Homo sapiens: one gene and its partner. The protein of the gene in region 1 interacts with the protein of each later gene in a pairwise test. Each region holds a gene or a part of one and is shown on either strand. Other genes may lie near its edges. The genes, in order: SIK1 and NMNAT1.

The links.
Region 2: the proteins of SIK1 (region 1) and NMNAT1 interact in a two-hybrid assay, tested with the Homo sapiens proteins (one large-scale study listed by BioGRID).

Annotation. Positions count from the first base shown.
Region 1 is NC_000021.9:43,424,032-43,428,538, forward strand, and holds the start of SIK1 (serine/threonine-protein kinase SIK1), read right to left. Parts: upstream 3,101-4,507; 5' UTR 2,979-3,100; intron 2,162-2,978; 5' UTR 2,148-2,161; coding exon 1,992-2,147; intron 1,493-1,991; coding exon 1,376-1,492; intron 1-1,375. UniProt on the Homo sapiens protein: Serine/threonine-protein kinase involved in various processes such as cell cycle regulation, gluconeogenesis and lipogenesis regulation, muscle growth and differentiation and tumor suppression. Phosphorylates HDAC4, HDAC5, PPME1, SREBF1, CRTC1/TORC1.
Region 2 is NC_000001.11:9,974,380-9,978,185, reverse strand, and holds part of NMNAT1 (nicotinamide/nicotinic acid mononucleotide adenylyltransferase 1), read right to left. Parts: intron 2,595-3,806; coding exon 2,411-2,594; intron 1-2,410.

The DNA of each region.
Region 1 (4,507 bases):
AAAACCAGAGGAGTAAAAGTCATTGCTACACCACTGAATTCTATCATCTCCCAACAGTTAAGAATCACATACAGCAGCAGTAAGAAAATGCACCTCCAGAAAAGACCTCAGCAGCAAACACATGGGCAATTTGTTTCTTTAACGGAGCTAATTCCACACAATGGGCAAAGGAGAAGAACAGGAAGAAAAGGAAGGTACTACCATTAGGGTTCAGCCCTTGAGCAAAGTCAAAAACAAAACCAGCTCAGCCCACTCCTGAGGAAATGGGCTGGGCACGCTGCACAGGCAGTACACCAGTGGCCATGGAGCACACAACTTAAAAATGACAACAGAAACAAAACACAAACCAGGCGCACACGGCATGAATTCTGTGCTTAAAGACACTGAGCAAACTGTCGTAAGCTCCACCAATACTGCTACTTTTATTTTCAATCTAGTGCAGAGGCTTTTGGGGGATAATTTCGAATCATAATTCTCTCTCCTACCACACTGTACACCGAGCTGTCCTAATTGCACAAACACACACAACAACATCCCAGAGTCATCTCACATTCCATTTCATAAGAATCATTACGAGGAACTTCAACCCAACACAAATGGATGAAATAGCACCTGCAAAGAACTTCTTCTGCAAGAAGACTTGATTTCACCTTGCAAAAGTGGTCATTTGTCATTAGGGAGGTGTAAATGATTGCTTTGCTGTTCTAATTAAATTAGTACTTATTTCCTGATGATATAATTTATTAATTTCAACATGAGAACAAAAATTAAGTCACAAAATAAACCAACAGAGAGACAGGGCAAGCCATGTTCCTAGCATGGATTAAATGACAAGCTCCTTGCTCTTACTATGGAAAAGTATTTTCATCTCTCCGTTTTTCATGGAAGAGTTTAAATAGGGAAAACAAATGCTCACTACTGTCCTTGCAAAAATAAACTAATGAAAACCAGTAAGAGCAGCTGGCTTTAAAGTTTAATAATTATCTGCAAAGGCAGAAGTTTCCAGTTTCACTCAAATTTGTCCTTTTATACTAAATGCGTGACCTGTGGCAATACCTACAGATAAGTTTGTCTGTTTTCATAGTAAAGCAAATTTACAACAGACTTCTACACATTTAAAACTGGATCAGGTTAGGATACTAAATAAAATTCTAATGAAGCAAATCTCAATTATGATCCAAAAGCAATAAAATAATTGTAAATATATCTGCACAGCCTATAAAAATCAATCTATTTACCTTATACAACCAAATGCCCAACTTCCACACACTCCCCAAAAGGGAAGCCACCTTCAGAAATTGCAGACTTATGCTGTTGGAAATAAAATATAACACATTTGCCAGGATTAGCAGAGAAAGGCAAGCTGACCCCTTACCTGGTAAAGCTTTATGATGTGTGGATGGTTCAGAAGCTTCATCAGCTGAACCTCACGATAGATTTTCTCCAAATTGCTTGAATCTAATCGTGTTTTATCAATTATTTTTATTGCAACCTACAAATTTAAAAAGAAAAAGGATATTCTGTGGGTTTTTTTAAAAAAAGAAAAGAAACCCTCAACCTAATTTACACATTTCATTTTTTGCAAGTTAATTTCTCAACACTCTGTCTCCAGAAGGTCACAAGAAGTTGGGAAAACATAACCAAAGTAACCACTAATGTTATTTAAAATAATCAGAGTTAAGTAAGTGACTTAAGTATTTGCAGGCTCACTTTACAGGGTTTAGCTCTGAGTCCATGAACCACTGCAATCTTAGGTTGGTCCTTTTTTTTGCTATTATCCTCTCTGCTTTCTCCCAATATATGTCCAAATTATGCAGCAACATAATATAAAGCATTATTTTTCTTTACCGAACTAAAAACGGTTACTATTTACCCACCACGACAATCAAGCCTGGAGCAGTGAATCTGCATGGGGTCCACCCGCCAAAGGTCGGGTCGCCCCGGGTCCAGTGGGGAGGCCCCGCCGGCTGGGTCCCACCGCCCCCACGCACCTGCGTTTTGGTGACTCGATGCCGCGCCAGCTTCACCACCGCGAAGTTGCCTTTGCCCAGGGTCCGCTCGATGTCGTAAAAACCCACCCGGAGGGGCTTCTGCTGGCCCTGACCCTGGCCCGCGGGGTCCGCGCTGAACTCCGACATGATAACCATGGCTCCGCGCGCACCTGCGGGGCCGCACAGAGCTCAGAGCCCACCAGCGCCCCCGCCGCCCGCGGTCGGCTCCATCCGTGCCCGCGGAGCCCCCAGTCCCCACGGGACGCAGGGACCTGCTCCCACGCCTGTCGCCCCCACTCTATCCACGGGCCCCTCCAGCCCCGTGGGAGGTGTGGACCCGCCCCCGCCGCCCGCTCCACCCGGACCCCCGACCCTCTTGAGCCCCGCGGGGCGCACGGACCCGCTCTCATAGAGGCCCCTGCCGCCCGAGTCCGGTTCCGTCCCGATCCCGGGACCCCCTGAGCCGGGATTCCACACTCGCCTCCCGCCGCCCGCTGTCGGTTCCGTCCCCACCCTCGACCCCTTTAGCACCTCTGGGCGCGGACCCGCTCCCACACCTGGCCCTGCCACCCGAGGTCGGCTCGATCCGGATCCCAGGACCGTCCCCTGCCCCGCTCCCACACCCTGCCCCCGCCGCCCGCGATCCGTCCGGTCCCCACCCCCGACATCCCAGGCACCTCGGGGATCGCGGACCCGCCCCCCACACCCGGTATCTCCGCCCGCGGTCGGCTCCAACCTGACCCCCGGCTCCCCAGCCCCTGAGCCCCGCGGACTCACTCCTACCCCGGCCCCCCAACAAAGGGGAGCCCGAGGGCGGCCAGGCCGCCAACCCCGCCCGCGAACCCCGCGCGCGCAAGGCCAGGGACCCTGCGCGGTGGCTGCAACCCCGAGCCCCGGCCCGGCGCCCGCGCGGAGCCCCCACGGCGGCCACCTCCGCCCGCCCGGAGCCCGCCGCTGCCGCCGCTGCCGCCGCTGCCGCCGCCTCACCTCCGCCGCCACCGGAGCGCCCAGGCCAGGAAGCCGCCCGCTCGGCCGCTGGCGCTGCTCGGGTGCCTACTGCTCCGGCTGCCGCCGCCGCTGCTGCTGCCTCCGGGGCCGCGCCGCATGTCAGCCCGGAGCCGCCGCGCTCCGCCGCACGCGGCGCCCGGCCCCGCCCCGGCCCGCCCCGGCCCGCCCCCCGTAGTCCCCGCCCCCTGCCCCGCCCCCGCCGCCCGGGCGGGGGCCGCCCATTGACGTCGCTTTGACGCCAGAGCGACGCGCGGCCGAGCGCCGGGCGGAGGGAGAGCGGGAGATCGGGCGGTTGCCAAGAGACTGGCGGCTCTGACGCGCGCGGGATGAGGCCGTTGCCCTGGCGACCGCGGGCCGGTGACGTCAGGGGCGCCCGCCGCCCGAGGCCCGCCCGCCTGCGCTCCGCCGGGCGCCCCCTCCCGGGCGCTGGGGGCACTGCGGGCGGCCCCACCGCCGAGGGCGCGCCCGCCCCTCCACGCTCGGGCACTCGGGCCGGGTCCCGCGGGCGCCTTGTGCTCGCTCCCTCCAGGAGGGGACGGCTCTCGGGCAGGGGTCGCCGGCCCCTCCACGCGGCCTGCGTTCGTCCAGACTCAGAGCCTCGGGACGTGCGGGGGCCCGGGGGCCTCGCGGGCTCGCGCGTGGGGCTGGCGGCGCGGATGCCCTGGGGCGCTGCAGACCCCGAGAGGCCGCTTGCCCGCGGGGACGTCAGCCGCTTTTGCTGTTAAAATCTGAAATGTTCAGCAAGTTAGAAACTTGAAACCTAAGGAAGCGTGACCGGCCGCTCTGGAAGCCCCCGCCGCGCGGCCGGTCCCGGCCCCGGCCCTCAGCGGCGCTGGCGTCTGCGCGTCCCGGGGCTGCCCCCGCAGCATGTGGGGCTGGGACCCTCTTCCCGCGCGGGCCCCGGGCGGACGCTGCGGGCGGTGACGGAGCCAGGCCGGCCGCCTGGGTAGGGGACGGGGGCGCGGGACCACTTGCTTGCCCGTGGCCGATGCCTCATCCGAACGGAAAACGTTTTCTTCAGGGGAGACAGAGGCTGTGGGCGAAGGTATTTTTTAAGCCTGAGGACCCATTTGGGAGTTAGATTCTGGATCGAGCCTAGGGTCAGTTTTCCTTGTGTTAAATAACACTACTTCACAGAAGGGGGAACGAGAATTCAGGGGAGTTGGCACAAAACTTGGAACCCTTCTCGGGAGGCTTTCCTGCCTGGACGGACGCCTGGGAGGAGGGCCCGGAGAAACGAGGATGAGCTTCTCCTCATTCGCCCGAGGGTCTGACCACAGATTTCCCAATCGCCACACACACACACACACACACACACACACACACACACACACGGGTTGTTTGGGAGTCAGTTGGTTTTCAAAGGCTTTCAAGGAAATGAAGAGTCCCAAAGTTTTCCTTAATCGTTCAGAGTGTTTTTCTTTGTCCCAGGTTTATATACCAAGAATACGGGGGAATATTTTTAGTTCCTTTCAGCTGAACAGTGTACAACTGCCTTTTTTCCTTTT
Region 2 (3,806 bases), on another chromosome or scaffold:
CGGGGTTTGCCATGTTGGCCAGGGTGGTCTCGATCTCCTGACCTCAGGTGATCCACCCACCTCGGCCTCCCAAAGTGCTGGGATTACAGGTGTGAGCCACCATGCCCGGCCTGATCCTATTATTGCGCTATTTATAGCCAGTAATCCTTTCTAGTGTGGGTGTGGTGGCTAGACGCTGGAGTCCACTGTCCGTCACCAACTTCAGGAGACTGAGACAGTTCAATAGCAGCAGAAGCGGAATTGGTTTGTTGAACTCTGACGGCAACATCGGAGGAGTGACCCTGACTTCCACTTCTCCAGCCCTTTTACTTTTTTTTGTTGTTGTTTTTTGAGACAGTCTCATTCTGCTGCCCAGGCTGGAGTGCAGTGGCACAATTTCAGTTCACCGTAACCTCTGCCTCCCAGGCTCAGGCAATTCTCCTGCCTCAGCCTCCCTAGTAGCTGGGATTACAGGTATGGGCCCAGCTAATTTTGTATTTTTAGTAGAGACAGGGTTTCACCATGTTGGCCAGGCTTGTCTTGAACTACTGGACTCAGGTGATCTGCCGGCCTCAGCCTCCCAAAGTGCTGGGATTATAGTCATGAGCTACCACGCCCGGCCTCAGCTCTTTTAAGTACTTTTTGCCTAAGTACTTAAATCTCTTTCCACTTAAAATATCCAGAGTGGGTTTCTATTTCCTAGTCTGAACCCTAAATGATACAGTCAGTCACTGGAAAGTTCAGAACTCTAAGAACAGATACTAAACAGAAAGGCTTTTCAGAAAGCCCTTTCATTTTAAACTCAAGATAACAACAGGCCAGGCATGGTAGCTCACATTTGTAATCCCAGCACTTTGGGAGGCCTAGGTGGGAGGATTGCTTGAGGCCAGGAGTTTGAGATCAGTCAGCATAGGCAACATAGCGAGGCCCCATCTCCAACAAAAAAAAGAAAATAAAGTTTAAAAAAATCAAAATAACATTAAGAGATAATTAGGTGTCAGCCAGGTGCGGTGGCTCACCTCTGTAATCCCCGCACTTTGGGAGGCCCGAGATGGGCAGATCACCTGAGGTCAGGAGTTCAAGACCAGCCTGGCCAACAGGGTGAAACCCCAGCTCTACTAAAAATACAAAAATTAGCCGGGCGTGGTGGCAGGCGCCTGTAATCCCAGCTACTTGGGAGGCTGAGGCAGGGGAACGGCTTGAACCCGGGAGGCAGAGGTTGCAGTGAGCCAAGATCATGCCATTGCACTCCAGCTTGGGCAACAAGAGTGAACCTCTATCTCAAAAAAAAAAAGAAAAGAAAAGAAATAATTAGGTGTTGGGAGGCTGAGACAGGTGGATCACCTGAGGTCAGAAGTTCAAGACCAGCCTGGCCAACAAGGTAGAACCCCATCTCTACTAAAAATACAAAAACATTAGCGGGGCGTGGTGGCAGTCACCTGTAGTCCCAGCTACTTGGGAGGCTGAGGCAGGAGAATTGCTTGAACCCAGGAGGCAGAGGTCGCAGTGAGCCGAGAATGCACCACTGCACTCCAGCCTGGGTGACAGAGCGAGACTCCGTCTCAAAAAGAAAAAAAAAAAAGAGAAATAATTAGATGTCACTTACTCTGGTTTTTGAACCCTTAACTAGAACTGCTTCAAAGGTATGGGCACAGAGATCTGTGACTCCCTGCCCAGATGCTGTCATGGAAGCAGCACACGAATCAGGCCTGTCCATGATCAAGCAGCACTGGATGCTTCTCTTCCTTAAATTATCTGCCTGTCTCTTTTATACTTAGGAAGACTGATGATAATAACATCTTCTTGCAATTTTCCCTTTCTCATTTGGGGCACAGAAAGCCCAGGCAGGCTTCCTCTATTTTCTAACAGTGGTATCACATAGTAGCAAGCAAGCAAACATCTTTTTTTTTTTTTTTTTTTGAGATGGAGTCTCGCTCTGTCACCCAGGCTGGAGTGCAGTGGCACAATCTTGGCTCACTGTAACCTCCATCCCCGGGGTTCAAGTGTATCTCCTGCCTCAGCCTCCCAAGTAGCTGGGATTACAGGCATGCGCCACCATGCCCGGCTAATTTTTGTATTTTTAGTAGAGACGGGTTTTCACCATGTTGGCCAGGCTGGTCTCGAACTCCTGACCTCAGCTGATCCACCCGCCTCAGCCTCCCAAAGTGCTGGCATTACAGGCGTGAGCCACCGCGCCTGGCCGCAAACAACTTAAAACATAATGAAAGACACAGAGGGGCTAAGGAAGACCCATCCTTTGGTGCTGTGCTCTACAGTCTTGTAGTAACCTTCCACAGGAATGGCTTACAACACACGTGACAGTTTTGCAAATCTGTATGTTCACAGATGTAAGCAACATTGAAACATGGTAAAAACATAAGCCGCTTAGCCATTTACACAGAACTGACAAAGTTGATTACACCATAAATACCTTAGCACCTTCAGAGTCTCTTTCCACTCCTTCTGAAGACTTTCCCATGTATCAACTTCCACCCATTTAGAATTCTTGGTAGCAAGTTCTGCCATGATGACCCGGTGATAGGCAGGAATGAGTCCTTTCTTCTTGTAGGCATCACCAACAGGAGAGATGATGCCTTTGACAACTGTGTACCTTCCTAGATAAAAAGTTAGGTTTCACACTAGGTATAACAAATTAGACTTTATGCACAGGAAATATTACGATCAATATTATTTGTTTTGTTTTGTTTTTTGAGACAGAGTCTTGCTCTGTTCCCCAGGCCGCACTGGAGTGATCTCGGCTCACTGCAACCTCCGCCTCCTGGGTTGAAGCAATTCTCCTGAGTCAGACTCCTGAGTAGCTGGGATTACGGGCGCATGCCACCATGCTGGTTAATTTTTGTATTTTTAGTAGAGATGGGGTTTTTACCATGTTAGCCAAGCTGGTCTCCAACTCCTGACCTCAAGTGATCTGCCTGCCTCAGCCTCCCAAAGTGCTGGGACTACAGGCATGAGTCACCACACCTGGCCAATATTGTTTTATAATCACAGATTCTCTTTCTTTAGGGATTCCAGCTTATTAGCTGATCAATTAACTGACTGAAATTATGGTAAAATATACCCAAGCGTACAGTTCTATGATATTAACTGCAAACATGCTGTTGTGCAACCATCGCTCCTATCTATCTCCAGAATTTTCTCATCTTCCCCAACTGACACTCTGTACTTCACCTCATTCCCCTATACAGTTAAATTTCTATTGATATTGCCAAATTACTTTGTAAAAAGCCTTAATTTGTATTGTCCACCTAGATGTATGCAAAAGCCCATTTCTCAATGTCATAGGCAAATAGTGAGCTTTAGCATCCATCCATCCATCTACCTATCAGCATATTATATGATCATTTATGTAACAAAAAAATCGAGGCCAGGTGTGGTGGCTCACACCTGTTATCCCAGTGTTTTGGGAGACCAAGGCAGGAGAATCACTTGAGCCCAGGAGCTCAACACCAACATGGGCAAAACAGTGGGACCCAGTTTCTACAAAAAATTAAAAAATTAGGCCAGGCGCGGTGGCTCACTCCTGTAATCCCAGCACTTTGGGAGTTCGAGGCGGGTGGATCACGAGGTCAGGAGATCAAGACCATCCTGGCTAACACGGTGAAACCCTGTCTCTACTAAAAATACAAAAAATTAGCCAGGCATGGTGGCGGGCACCTGTAATCCCAGCTACTCCGGAGGCTGAGGCAGGAGAATGGTGTGAGCCTGGGAGGCGGAGTTTGCAGTGAGCTGAGATCATGCCACTGCACTCCAGCCTGAGCGACAGAGCAAGACTCTGTCTCCAAAAAAAAAAAAAAATTAGCCAGATG